Regions from separate parts of the Homo sapiens genome. Here region 1 is linked to region 2. Evidence: fine-mapped expression QTL. Tissue or cell type: whole blood. Region 2 holds a variant in brackets; the other region holds the start of a gene. All regions are shown on one strand. Distances are between the middles of the regions.

Evidence for each region. PIP is the estimated chance that this variant, and not a neighbour inherited with it, causes the effect.
Region 1: UPK3B starts here. The variant in region 2 is fine-mapped to the expression of UPK3B in whole blood (TOPMed, PIP above 0.99).

Annotation. Positions count from the first base shown.
Region 1 is chr7:76,506,107-76,514,592 of GRCh38, reverse strand. It overlaps UPK3B (uroplakin 3B), which reads right to left and starts at 4,041. Exons shown (of 6, transcript NM_001347684.2): 1 at 3,856-4,041; 2 at 3,541-3,690; 3 at 2,711-2,936; 4 at 1,430-1,509; 5 at 517-646. The coding sequence starts at 3,940. LOC124901675 (a long non-coding RNA gene) reads left to right here and starts at 3,860. Exons shown (of 2, transcript XR_007060388.1): 1 at 3,860-4,069; 2 at 4,485-6,412. RefSeq lists enhancers at 724-1,373, 1,374-2,025, 2,026-2,677, 3,431-4,003, 4,004-4,576 and a silencer at 5,454-5,659.
Region 2 is chr7:77,080,310-77,087,031 of GRCh38, reverse strand. It overlaps the pseudogene FAM185BP. Among named protein-coding and RNA genes, the nearest start is that of SPDYE18, 21 kb to the right of the region's middle. The variant A/C (reference allele first, on the strand shown) is at 4,199.

The sequences.
Region 1 (8,486 bases), 570 kb after region 2:
CTTCTAGAACCAATTGGAGGACCACCTCTCCAGGTGGCCACCCTGACTACCCTGGCGTCAGCTTACTAAACCACCAGAGGATCCACAGACAGCAGGTGAGGCCCGGGAGGAGAAGGGCCTTGGCTGAGGACACACTGAAAAGACAGGGCCCGAGTGAGGCGGGACCTCCCGAACCTGTCCTCAGAGGGGCTGCTGGCCCCATCAATGACCCCTGAGGTGCGAGATACTCAGGGTGGGAGTTCCCTGCACAGGCCCTGGGAGGGGCGCTGCCCAGCTCGAAACCACGGGGCTCGGCAAGGTGGCTCACACCTGTAATCCTAATACTTTGGGAGGCCGAGACGGGAGGATCGCTTGAGCCCAGCAGTTCCAGACCAGCCTGGGCAACATAGCAAGTCCCTGTCTCTACCAAAAATAAAATAAACCCCATGGCATGCCTGGAGGGCTTCCAGACACTGGGACCAATTCAACAGAGGGGTTCTGGGTGGGAGAGGGGCCCGAGGGGGTGTCCCCACTCACAAGCGCATGGTAGAGGCTGCCAAGAAGGCCAAGAGTAGGAGGCCGGCCAGAGAAGAGAGGATGGAGGTAATGACGATCATGCTGCCACTTCGCCGCCCTGGCCAGGTGTCGATGGATCCGGGGGTCTTCCCTGCACACACACCAGCTGCTCAGAGGGGCTGCCCCTCGACCCCAGGGCTGGCTGTCATCTCCTCCCTCGCTCCCTCCCCACCCACGCTGGCCTAGCTTCAAGGTCTGGCTGTCTCATATCCCCAGGCGCCCCCCTGATCCCACCCCCCGTCCCTCTTCCTCGGGACGGCACAGCATCTGTTCTCTGCCAGCCTGGACCACAGCCTCCGCCCTGCTCCTACCTTCTAGGCTGCTCCCACCCACGTGCTCATCCACTGCCCTGCTCCCTGGAGCCCAGCAGTCAAGGCCTTCAGATGACAAGACTTCCACCCCACACCCCCTGACCTCTGAAGCCGTCTCCCAGGAGACCCCCACCCCCGACACCTGGGCCGTGGCACTCGAAACTTCTGGGCTTGGTACATTCACGCTTGCCCCTTGGGGTCTGCTCAGAACTCAAGCTGGCTGCCTCCCCAGCCAGCCCCGACCCTGACCCTGACCTCCTCCACACCCTCTTCCTCCCTCCCAGCAGGGGCTGACACAGGCTGACTCCCTACAGGAGGGGGGAGGCTGTCTGTGCCCACAATGTGGCAAACGCTTGCGGATGGGCCGAGATGGTGCCCCTGCCGAGGGGGCTGGCTGGGTGCCCCACTCCCCCAGCATGAGGTTCTGTTGGGGGCTGGGCCCGACTTGGACATGGCCTCCAGGCCCCCAGCCCTGTGGGAGCAGGGGTGTGGCCAGCTCAGCAGAGGCGGCCCAGAGAGATCGTGAGTCCACTGGGGGCAGCGCCCCTCCTGCCCAGCGCTACCTTGGTGGAGAGTGATGGGGTCTGACCACTTGGTCTCAGCCCTGGGTGAGCCCCTGGTGTCCATCAGGAGGAACTTCACCCTGGGGATGGGAGGTGGTGGGGGAGGAGGGGAGAGCTTCAGAGGCTGGGACCACCCTGGGCAGGGCCAAGCCCCAGGCAGCTCCTCTGGGGCCCTCCCATGGATGTGGAGTGGGGGTGCCCGTCAAGAGCAGCAGCCCATGGCCTGGCCCTGCTCTGAGAATCCCCTGAGATGTCTCCAGCCACTTGGCCTGTGCCACCACCCCTCATCCCCCCGAGCAATTGCTCTCCAGACACCAGACCTGGGCCGGGGATGCTGGTTTAGGGGCCCTGGTTCCTAAATGTCACAAGCCAAAAGAGCAGGTGAAGGTGGCTTAGCAGGGCACATGGGGCAGGGGTCACAGGCCTCCCAGAGGGGCAGCAGTAGCCGGGGGCAGGGGGCTCAATCACCAGCAGCCTGAGGACCCAGGGCACCAGGAGCCCCGCAGAGGGCCTCGGTTTGTCTCTTTGCAGGGCTGGGAGCTCTGCAAGGCCTGGGAAGCGGGGAAGGACCTGGCAGGTTGGCATTGAAAAGAGTGGCTGCGGGGGATGGGGCGGGGCATGGAGCTGGAAGGCTGAGCCAGGGTGAGGCAGCGGGGAGGGCAGAGGGTGGACCTGGAGAGTGGGTGAGAGGGCAGAAGGGGGCTGGGCGGAGCGGGGTGCTGTTCCAGCCTCACCACGCCCTGCCTTCCCGGCTTCCCCTGGGCCTGGTCTTCCTGAGGTCACCCCGCCTCCTCCTGTGTCCGGACAGTCCTGACCTGGACACACTGCCTGCTTCCCCATCCCGGCTCCACCCCGATGTTGGCAGGCCACTTGACCTCCTGTGCCTCAGTTTCCTCATCTGTAAGAGCGGGTAGGAGCCACCTCTCCTGCTCCCTGCCTAATACCGACGAGACTGGGTCTGAACTCGGCCCCCGAGTTTCCTGCCAGATCTGCCCGTGGTGGGGGACAGGGGCCTAGACTTTGGGGAAGCTGCCCCCTCCCACCTTGACTAAGATCCCGCCTCCCCAAGGTGCCCACCTGCTCCTCCTGGGCCTTGCCCGGCCCCAGCGGGGGTGAGCACTGTTGCTGACTCTACAGTGGAAGGAGCCCGGGCTTGCAAAGGGGAGGACCGGGGCCGGGGACCCCTCCCTGGAAAGATGCTAGAGAGAGCATCCCTGGTCCCAGCAATGCGTCCGCCCCAAGCACAGCCCCAGTCCCAGGGCTCCGGTGGGGACCACCCACCGATAGGGTCCAGGGCCAGGGAGGGGCGCGTTGCAGAAGGGCTGCTGGTGGCAGCCGTGGTCATGGCCCACCCGCAGCACGGGGGCGCCTCCGCTGCCCGCCATGGGGTCGCCACAGGGCAGCTGGTCCGGAGACAGGGGCAGCGTCATGTAGTGGCCATCGGTCAGCAGCTGTGGGGAGGCCGGAATGTCAGCCAGTGTCTCCGGGTTCTGGAAGCCCCTGGAGGCTGCAGGAGGAGAGAACAGATGGAGGTGGGAGGGGAGAAAGCAGCTTTGTCCTTATGAGTGGGGGTTCTGTGTTCGCCCAGTCTCCAGCCCTGACCCCCCATGCCACCTCCTCCCTCAGGGCCCCCAGAGATAGTCCAGACCCAGTCGACTTTGTTACCCCTGAAGGGGAGCTTCCCTCTGGCCTTTTGTCCCCACCCAGAGCCAGGAGTGGGGAGCAGCGGGCAGTCCCAACCTGCCCAGCCCCAGCCCCAGCCCCATTGCAGTGCACCGGCCCTGCCCCACAGGAGGCCACATCCTCCCAGGTCGCAGCCTCGGTTCCCTGTCCAAAGGAAGAACTACTTGGATTCAGAGAAAGGGTTGCAGAGCCCTTGACAGCTGACAAACCCACCACTAGCACTACTCCCGGGATTTGGTGTTCACTACGTGTGTATTTTTCAATACACATATTACCCCTTTAGATAAAGCCCAATTCATCCACACCTACTCTCCCAAAGGCCCCCACAGGGGCTCAATCATTGAAGGCGCTTGCTGGTGAGGGGCTCCTAGGGCCCACCACTCTCCTCAGCCGTCACCCTCACCCAGGCCCCACAGCAGTCCCCGTACCATTGCTGAAGGCCACCACGAGCCAGACGGTATCGCTGGCGCTGGCAAGCCCATCGAAGACACAGCGCGGCTGCTCCAGGGAGAAGGTGGTGGCTGTGACCTTCCCTTCCAGGTCCCAAGCTGTTATCTGTGGTGTGTAGGGCACCAGCTCTGTGGCCACGGGGGACAAAAGGTGAGCCACGGAGACGGGCGTGGGGGTCCCTGGGGCTGCCTCTCCCAATCGGAGGGGGGCGGGCGCCCAGGGTCCAATCACTCCAGCAGGGCCCCCAGCCCCTTGGGTCTGGCTGGACGCGTCCATCCAGGACCCCCACTCACCCAGGCTCAGGCTGGGCCGGAGACAGTTCAACGCCAGGAGGAGCATCTGCAGCCCTAGGTGAGGCTGCCCCCAGGGTAGCCCCATGACAGCTGCCAGCACCCGGGAGGCTCAGGGGCTGGTCTGGCTGCTTCGGGCTGCACCTCACCCCCAACAGCTTGGCCCTGGAGAAGCTGGTTAATCAGGCTGCCCCAGGGGCTGGAAAGACCTGCAAATGTAAGTGCACCCCACCCCCTTCCTCCCAGGCCAGCCCACAGCAGGGAGGAGCTGGGGGGACTCTGGTGGGAGGCAGGCCAGTATCCAGCCCCACTGCCAGGGCCAAGGGAGAGGGGCCACTGGAACCCCAGATGCCAGCCAGGCCATCCCGGAGCCTGGATTGGGGCCCCTCCCAGTCTCTCCGCCCTGGGGAGGAGGGTCTGGCTTTTGGAAACAGGCTCAGGACCACATGCCTGAGATTCCTGTGCCCCAGGTGCCAGGAGCCTCCCTCTGCCTTCTGTCCCCACCCAGAGTCAGGAGTGGGGAGTAGCAGGCAGCCCCAACCTGCCCAGCCCCATCCCCATCACAGCACGCTGGCCCTGCCCCCCACGAGGCCACATCCTCCCAGTTCGCAGCCTGGGTTCCCTGTCCACAGGAAGAAGAACTTGGATTCAGAGAAAGGGCTGCAGAGCCCTTGACAGCTGACAAGCCCGCCACTTAAACACTACTCCCGGGATTTGGCGCTCACTATGTGTGTATTTTTCAAGACATAACTCACATACCTTCACAACCTTCACAGCTCAGTGGCTTAAATATATATATGTCACCCAGGGAGGTCAGTTCACAGCTAACTGGAGCCTCAAACTCCCAGGTTCAGTTAATCCTCCCACCTCAGCCTTCCCAGTAGCTGGAACCACAGGCACACAACACCATGCTCCGGCTAATTTTTAAAATTTATTTAATTAATTTTTTTTTAAGATGGAGTCTCCTTTGTTGTCCAGGCTGGAGTGCAGTGGCGTGATCTGGGCTCACTGCAACCTCCGCCTCCTGGGTTCAAGCGATTCTCCTGCCTCAGCCTCCCAAGTAGCTGGGATTACAGGCATGTGCCCCACGGCCAGCTAATTTTTGTATTTTTAGTAGGGACGGGGTTTCACCATGTTGGCTTGGCTGGTCTCAAATTCCTGATCTCAAGTGATCCACCCGCCTTGGCCTCCCAAAGTGCTGGGATTACAGGCATGTGCCACCGTGCCTGGCACCCCCGCCAATTTTTTTTTTGTTTTTTTTGAAACGGAGTTTTCACTCTTGTTGCCCAGGCTGGAGTACAATGGCTCGATCTTGGCTCACCGCAACCTCCACCTCCTGGGTTCAAGTGATTCTCCTGCCTCAGCCTCCTGAGTAGCTGGGATTACAGGCATGTGCCACCACACCTGTCTAATTTTGTATTTTTAGTAGAGATAGGGTTTCTCCACGTTGGTGAGGCTGGTCTCGAACTCCTGACCTCAGGTGATCCACCCACCTCAGCCTCCCAAAGCGCTGGGATTGCAGGTGTGAGCCACTGCGCCCGGCTGGCCAATTTTTAAAAATGTATTTTTTATAGAAACAGGATCTTGCTATGTTGCCCAGGCTGATCTCTAACTCCTGGGAGGATCAAGCAAATCTCCTGCCTTGGCCTCCTAAAGTATTGGGATTACAGGCGTGAGCCACCGTGCCTGGCTATTTTTTTTTTTTTTTGAGACATGGAGTCTCACCCTGTCGCCCAGGCTGGAGTGCAATGGCGTGATCTCTGCTCACTGCAACCTCCACCTCCTGGGTTCAAGCAATTCTTCTGCCTCAGCCTCCCTAGTAGCTGGGACTACAGGCACCTACCACCATGCCCAGCTAATTTTTGTATTTTTAGTAGAGATGAGGTTTCACCAACTTGGCCAGGCTGGTCTCGAACGCCTGACCTCGCGATCTACCTGCCTTGGCCTCCCAAAGTGCTGGGATTACAGGCATGAGCCACTGCGCCCAGCTGCTAATTTTTAAAAATATAGTTTTTGAGGCTGGGTGTAGTGACTTACGGCGGTAATCCCAGCACTTTGGGAGGCCGAGGTGGGCAGGTCACTTGAGGTCATGAGTTCGAGACCAGCCTGGCGAACATGGTGAAACCCTGTCTCGACTAAAATTACAAAAATTAGCCGGGTGTGGTGGAACGTGCTTGTAATCCCAAGTACTCGGGAGGCTGAGGCAGGAGAATGACTTGAACCCGGGAGGCGGAGGTTGCAGTGAGCTGAGATCGCACCACCGCACTACAGCGTGGATGACAGAGTGAGACTCTGTCTCAAAAAAAATATAATAAAAATATATTTCTTGTAGAGACAGGGTCTCACTGTGTTGCCCAGCCTGGTCTTGAACTCCTGGCTCAAGGGATCCTCCTGCCTCAGCCTCCCAAAGTGCCCAGATTACAGGCATGAGCCACAGCGCCCAACAGCTTTTAGTATATCAACAAGGTTGTGCAACCATCACCAATTCCAGAACCTTCTTACTTCCCCAAAACGAAACACTACACCCATTAAACGGTAACTCTCCATTCTCCCGTCCCCAGTGACGACTAAGCTACTTCTTGTTTCCATGGTTTTGCCCGTAATGGACATTTCATAGGATGCAGTCACACAACATGTGACCTTTTGTGTCTGGCTTTTGTTACTTTTTCAAGGTTCCTCCTCGACTGTGATTGCTTCATTCCTTTTCACAGTTGAGTAATATTCCATCCTGTGAACGTATCACACTTTCATTCATCAGTGGATGCAGAATTTGTTTTTTTCCACTGTGGGGCTACTGTAAATAATGCTGCCATGAGCATCCGTGCGCAGGCTTCTGTGGGCACATTTTCAATTCTCTTGAGAATGTACCTAGGAGTGGAACTGTGGTCATATGCTAATGCTGCTTTCTGAGGTTCTGTTTGCCAAAGTGGCTGCATTTTACATTCCCAGTAGCAGTGGATGAGGGTCCCATTTCTCGACATCCTCTCCAACACTGCTTTTTGTTTTAGTATAGCCATCGTAATGGGTGTAGTGTGGCATCTCATGGTTTTGTTTTTATATATATTTTTTGAGACGGAGTCTTGCTCTGTCGCCAGGCTGGAGTACAGTGGCGTGATCTCGGCTCACTGCAACCTCTGCCTTCCGGGTTCAAGCAATTCTCCTGCCTCAGCCTCCCAAGTTAGCTGGAATTGTAGGTGCACACCACCATGCCCAGCTAATTTTTGTATTTTTAGTAGAGGGGGTTTCACCACGTTGGCCAGGCTGGTCTCGAACTCCTGACCTTGTGATCCTCCCGCCTCAGCCTCCCAAAGTGCTGGGATGACAGGCCTGAGCCACTGTACCCGGCCAACACTGGGGTCTTCTAGAGAGACCTCACTACCCTTTTTACCCTGGACCAACTTACCATTAGGCACAGTGCCCTGGGCCCACACTATAAGAGCTGACATACATTTTTAATTTCTTTTAAAATCAGAAGGGAAAAAAATGAACCTTTAGGTGAGAGAAAATCCTCTAGTATACATTAATATATTCATCTTTATACCAACATGTTGTAAAATAGGTTTAACAGAGAAAGGGGCTCACCAAGGCCAAAGTGCCTCTGCTTTCCACAGCCATGAATGAGGTGGCCCTACCGTCCCCCTCTGGTCCCAGGCCCAAACTACTCCTCCCGGACAAGCAGCAAGATCTTGACTGGGGATATCTGATCCTCCTTCCAAGAGGAGGAAGAATTAGAACTTTGAGAATGGTGTCAGATCAACCCTGGCCTGGATTCCACCTACCTAGCCAAGCATTCAATCTGTCTCTTTTTATTATGATTTTACAGATGGGATCTTGCTCTGTTGCCCAGGCTGGAGTGCAGTGGTGCAATCATAGCTCACTGCAGCCTTGAGCTCCTGGGCTCAAGCGATCCTCCCGCCTCAGCCTCCCGACCGCTGGGACTACAGACAGGTGCCACCATGCCTGGCTTATTTATTTATTTTTTTGAGACGGAATCTCGCTCTGTGGCTCAGGCTGGAGTGCAGTGGCACGACCTTGGCTCACTGCAACCTCCACCTCCCAGGTTCGAATGATTCTCCTGCCTCAGCCTTCTGAGTAGCTGGGATTACAGCTGCATGCCACCACGCCTGGCTAATTTTCGTATTTTCAGTAGAGACGATGTTTTGCCATGTTGGCCAAGCTGGTCTCAAATTCCTGACCTCAGGTGATCCACCTGTCTCAGCCTCCCAAAAGTGCTAGGATTAGAGGCGTGAGCCACTGCACCTGGCCTAATTTTTTTTTTAGAGATGAGGTCTTGCAATTTTGCTCAGGCTGGTCTCAAATGTCTGGACTACAGTGAGCCTCCTGTCTCGACCTTCTGAGCAGCTGGGATAACAGGCATGCGTCACCATGCCTGGTTCAAGTCATTGCACCTTTGAACCTGTTTCCACATCAGTAAAACAGAGACAGCAGCTCCAATCCTAAGTGAATGGCATTTTGTGAACCACAACCCCAGGGCCACAAAGGTGACAGCTGGTGCTCTGGGGTGACAGCCTCTGGCATGGCAGGGAGATCAGTGTAGGGCATGTGGAGGCCGCACAGCCCAGTACCGTGGGCTCCTCCATGCCTGGCTGTGGCCTGTTCTTCAGTTATCAAAT
Region 2 (6,722 bases):
CTCATTTTATGAGGCCAGCATCATCCTGATACCAAAGCCTGGCAGAGACACACAAAAAAAGAGAATTTTAGACCAATATTCCTGATGAACATCGATGCAAAAATCCTCAATAAAATACTGGCAAACCAAATCCAGCAGCACATCAAGAAGCTTATCCACCATGATCAAGTGGGCTTCATCCCTGGGATGCAAGGCTGGTTCAACATATGCAAATCAATAAACATAATCCAGCATATAAACAGAACCAACGACAAAAACCATATGATTATCTCAATAGATGCAGAAAAGGCCTTGACAAAATTCAACAACGCTTCATGCTAAAAACTCTCAATAAATTAGGTATTGATGGGACGTATCTCAAAATAATAAGAGCTATCTACGACAAACCCACAGCCAATATCATACTGAACAGGCAAAAACTGGAAGCATTCCCCTTGAAAACTGGCACAAGACAGGGATGCCCTCTCTCACCACACCTCTTCAACATAGTATTGAAAGTTCTGGCCAGGGCAATCAGGCAGCAGAAGGAAATAAAGGGTATTCAATTAGGAATAGAGGAAGTCAAATTGTCCCTGTTTGCAGATGACATGATTGTATATCTAGAAAACCCCATTGTCTCAGCCCAAAATCTCCTTAAGCTGATAGGCAACTTCAGCAAAGTCTCAGGATACAAAATCAATGTGCAAAAATCACAAGCATTCTTATACACCAATAACAGACAGAGAGCTAAATCATGAGTGAACTCCCATTTACAATTGCTTCAAAGAGAATAAAATACCTAGGAATTCAACTTACAAGGGACGTGAAGGACCTTTTCAAGGAGAACTACAAACCACTGCTCAATGAAATAAAAGAGGATACAAACAAATGGAAGAACATTCCATGCTCATGGGTAGGAAGAATCAATATCGTGAAAATGGCCATACTGCCCAAGGTAATTTATAGATTCAATGCCATCCCCATCAAGCTACCAATTACTTTCTTCACAGAATTGGAAAAAACTACTTTAAAGTTCATATGGAACCAAAAAAGAGCCCGCATCGCCAAGTCAATCCTAAGCCAAAAGAACAAAGCTGGAGGCATCACGCTACCTGACTTCAAACTGTACTACAAGGCTACAGTAACCAAAACAGCATGGTACTGGTACCAAAACAGAGATATAGACCAATGGAACAGAACAGAGCCCTCAGAAATAACGCCGCATATCTACAACCATCTGATCTTTGACAAACCTGACAAAAACAAGCAATGGGGAAAGGATTCCCTATTTAATAAATGGTGCTGGGAAAACTGGCTAGCCATATGTAGAAACCTGAAACTGGATCCCTTCCTTACACCTTATACAAAAATTAATTCAAGATGGATTAAAGACTTAAATGTTAGACCTAAAACCATAAAATCCCTAGAAGAAGACCTAGGCAATACCATTCAGGACATAGGCATGGGCAAGGACTTCATGTCTAAAACACCAAAAGCAATGGCAACAAAAGCCAAAATTGACAAATGGGATCTAATTAAACTAAAGAGCTTCTGCACAGCAAAAGAAACTACCATCAGAGTGAACAGGCAACCTACTGAATGGGAGAAATTTTTTGCAATCTACTCATCTGACAAAGGGCTCATATCCAGAATCTACAATGAACTCAAACAAATTTACAAGAAAAAAACAAACAGCCCCATCAAAAAGTGGACAAAGGATATGAACAGACACTTCTCAAAAGAAGACATTTATGCAGCCAAAAAACACATGAAAAAATGCTCATGATCACTGGCCATCAGAGAAATGCAAATCAAAACCACAATGAGATACCATCTCACACCAGTTAGAATGGCAATCATTAAAAAGTCAGGAAACAACAGGTGCTGGAGAGGATGTGGAGAAATAGGAACACTTTTACACTGTTGGGTGGACTGTAAGCTAATTCAAACATTGTGGAAGTCAGTGTAGCGATTCCTCAGGGATCTTGAACTAGAAATACCATTTGACCCAGCCATCCCATTACTGGGTATATACCCAAAGGATTATAAATCATGCTGCTATAAAGACATGCACACGTATGTTTATCGTGGCACTATTCACAATAGCAAAGACTTGGAACCAACCCAAATGTCCAACAATGATAGACTGGATTAAGAAAATGTGGCACATATACACCATGGAATACTATGCAGCCATAAAAAATGATGAGTTCATGTCCTTCGTAGGGACATGGATGAAGCTGGAAACCATCATTCTCAGCAAACTACTGCAAGGACAAAAAACCAAACACCGCATGTTCTCACTCATAGGTGGGAATTGAACAATGAGAACACATGGACACAGGAAGGGGAACATCACACACCGGGGCCTGTTGTGGGGTCAGGGCAGTGGGGAGTGATAGCATTAGGAGATATACCTAATGTTAAATGACAAGTTAATGGGTGCAGCACACCAACATGGCACATGTATACATATGTAACTAACCTGCACGTTGTGCACATGTACCCTAAAACTTAAAGTATAATAATAAAAAAAAAAGCATGGGCTTTGTAATTATTGAGCTGAGTCTAGGTTCCAGCACGAGCACTAGTGGGAACTTGAGCAAGTTCTTATCTATAAAATCGGGGCGATAATAATACCTCATAAAGTTAATATGGGGATTAAAACATAATGTAATTAGGGGTCTGGCTCATATTAAATGCTCAATGGCAAATCCTATCTATAAGCTACATGTGTAGTAAATTACTCACTTTCTGGTGTTGGATGAGCTGTGTAGGACTATTGGCAAAAGCAGATCTAGTAGTTAATAATGTGCTAATAACCCATATTCTTGACAGAAGTTACTGTGAATGCCGAGAGTAAGGAAACTTTGGGCACCTGGGAATAAGGAAAAGGTTTAAATAAATACTGTATGCTGAGGAGTAAAAACAGTGTCTCAGGAGCAATGCTACCCTGTCAGTCAAATTTATAATAGACTCTGGTACTTTTGATTTCTTTATATTACTAAGCTCTCCATTATATTTATTACAGGTTCTATTATTGTCAAGGTCCCATCTTCACTTCAAGCTCATTTACAGTTATCAGGGAAAGAGGTTGATGTGAACTCAGAAGTCCATGTTCAGGAAATGGCTGAAGCTCGTAAAGATGATGTTGTAACAGTGACTGGTAAGGAGGCTGCATTTTGCTCTGTCAGATGAATAGCCATTCTCCATACATAAGTAGAAATGTGGTACACTTAACGGAAATTTTAGCTTTTTTATATTTTTCCATTATTATGTCCTCATGTTTGACATCTTTTTTTCTTCTAGTTGCTTATCATTAATATGATGCAGACATTTTGTTTAAAAAGACCTCATTAAATCATTTAGGAAGACTCATTAGTCCTGTCATTGGGTAAAATTGATTTTTAAATTTTCTAGAAGAGCTGTTTTCTAATTCTCGAACTTAAACTGAATACATATATTATAGTGCAAAATTTAAAACTAACTTCGTGTGACTGGAGTAAATCGGAATTTTGTTTGGTATGTACATTTTAAACTTGCTCTTTCAGAACAACAAATTCTCAGTAGCACAAATGTGAATCGTTTTTGTACATTTTTCATTATATCTGGCTACAGTGGTGGCTGATACTATTTTTTTAAGGTTTGTCATTGGTTGGTTTTTTTGTTGTTTGAGACAGAGTCTTACTCTATTGCCCATACTGGAGTGCAGTGGCGTGACCTTGGCTCACTGCAACCTCCGCCTCCCGGGTTCAAACGATTCTGTTGCCTCACCCTCCTGAGTAGCTGGGACTACAGGCATGCACCACCATGCCTGGCTAATTTTTTTTGTATTTTTAATAGAGACAGGGTTTTACCATGTTGGCCAGGCTACTCTCAAATTCCTGACCTCAGGTGATCAGCCCACCTCAGCCTCCCAAAGTGCTGGGATTATAGGCATGAGCCACTGCACCTGGCCAAGGTTTGTTGTTTTAATGAATAAAAAAATTAATGCTGGTGAAGTTTTCCTTTAAATTTTACCAGAATGGCATCAAGGAGGACATTGCAATTAGACCGTGTATAGGGATGAATGCTACAAGCTAAATCCATGAGATGCCAACTAGAAAAAGGAAGAATTGGGGAGTAGGGGAGGGTGGTCTTCATAAGATCAAATTTCAGTTTTAGGTATTCATTTTATATGTCGTGAAAATTAAGAAAGTTGTCTGTTAAAATTCATAGA[A/C]TATTAACAAAAAACATAACAGGAATAAAAATAATACCTATACACTCCCAGATATAACTGCATGCCACTTAATGGGCAAACCCATAGTTAAGTGGCAAAAATTTGATGAAAATCTAAGTACAGTCATGCATCACTTAATGACAGAGATACATTCTGAGAAATGTGTTATTAGGCAATTTTGTTGTCATGTGAACATTATAGAGTGAACTTATACAAACCTAGATGGTACAGCCTACTATACACTGAGGCTGTGTAGTAGCCTATTATTCCTAGGCTACACCCTGTACAGCAGGCTACTGTACTGAAAACTGTAGGGAATTGTAACACAATGGTATTTGTATATCTATATATAGAAAAGGTACAGTAAAAATCTGGTATAAAAGATAAAACATGGTACGCCTGTATAGGGCACTTACCATAAGTGGAGCTTGTAGGACTGGAAGTTGCTCTGAGTGAGTCAGTATGATGAGTGGTGAGTGCATGTGAAGGCCTAGGACATTACTACTATAGACTTTATAAACACTGTACAGTTAGGCTACACTAAATTTATTTTTAAGTTTCTTCAATAATAAATTAGCCTTAGTTTACTGTAACTTTTTTACTTTATTTATTCTAGAGATAGCTGCTTTCTCTGTTGCATAGACTGGAGTGCAATTATAGCTCACTATAAACTCAAACTCTGGGCTCAAGTGATCCTTCTGCCTCAGCCTCCCTAGTAGCTAGGTTGCAGGTGTGCACTACCATGCCCAGCTAATTTTTAAAAAGTTTTTAGCAGAGACAAGGCCTTGCTATGTTTCCCAGGCTTGTCTTCAGCTCCTGGCCTTAAGTGATCCTCCCACCTCAACTTCCCAAAGAACATTTTTACTTTATAAACTTACATTTTAAAAAATTTTTTGAGGCTGGGCACGGTGGCTTACGCCTGTAATCCCAGCACTTTGGGAGGCCGAGGTGGGCAGATCGTTTGAGGTCAGGAGTTCCAGACCAGCGTGACCAACATGGTGAAACCCCCATTTCTACTAAAATACAAAAATTAGCCGGGCGTGGTGGCGGGCGCCTGTAATCTCAGCTACTCAGGAGGCTGAGGAAAAAGAATCCCTTGAAACCAGGAGGCAGAGGGTGCAATGAGCCAATATCGCGCCACTGCCCTCCAGTCTGAGCAAGAGCGAGACTCCCTCTCAGAAAAAAATAAAATAAAATAAAAAACTTTTTGACTCTTTTGTAATAATACTTAGCTTGAAACACAAACACACTTTACAGCTGTAGAGATATACTTGTCTATCTTTATTCTGTAAGCTTTTTTCTGTTTTTAAAATTGTTAATTTTTTTAAATTTTACTTTTTAAACTTTGTTAAAAACGAAGACACAAACACACACATTAGTCTAGGCTTTTACTGGGTAAAGAATGTCAGTATCACTTTCACCTCCACATCTTGTCCCACTGAAAGGCCTTCAGGGGCAATAACACACGTGGAGCTGTCATCTCCTGTGATGATAATGCCTTCTTCTGGAATACTTCCTGAAGGACTTGCCTGAGGCTGTTGTATCGTAACTTTTTTTTTTTTTTTTAATAAGCAGAAGATATACACTCTAACGATAAAAAGTATAGTAAATACATAAATCAGTAACACGGTCATTTATTCTCATTATCAAGTATTATGAACTACACATAACATATGTGCTATACTTTTTTATGACAGTGGAGTGGGTTTGTTTACACCAGCATCACCACAAATGCAGGTAGTGCATTGCATTTAAACAACCATTAGGATGGCTACGAAGTCACTAGGTGATAGGAGTTTTTTACCTCTATTATAATCTTATGGGACAACCATCATTTCTGTAGTTCATCGTTGACTGAAACATAATTATGCAGTGTGTGACTGGGTATCAAATATAGTGAGAATCAACTTGTGATCTAATGCTTGAATTTGATAAGGAGCCAAGAGAGTTACCTATTTTTGGTCCCAATAATCTAAAACAATAATACAAGTTTGTTTAACTGTGCTCTGAATCATAGCATAACCAAAATTATTGGCATATGTAAGCATGTTTGAATTATAAGCTAAAGCTATTTTGTCATATTTTTATTCATTTATTCATGGAATCATATGCCTTTCTAAAATTTAGATTGTTTTAAAACTATTCTCACAACTTCAGTCATTATTTCTATGTACATAACTTCCAAGTCAATACATGCAGACCTGATCTCTATTGTTCTTGTGCATTTCTATTCCACTAAACCAGTGCCACCTAAAACTTAATGTTTAAAAACAAAATTATCTTCCCCTAGCCTACCTCTTCCTTCTCCTGTCTTTTCTATTTTTCTTTATTTGCTCAGTTACTCAACAAATGTTTGAGTCAACACTGCCGGAAACTAGGAGTGCAAGGGTAATATAAAGCATGGTCTCACTGCCTTCTGAGGAGCTTACATTCTAGTGAGGAAAGGCAAACCAGAGAATACAGTACAGTGGGATCAATGTTATAAACGTATGTACATTGTACTGTGAGAACACAGGGGTGAGGA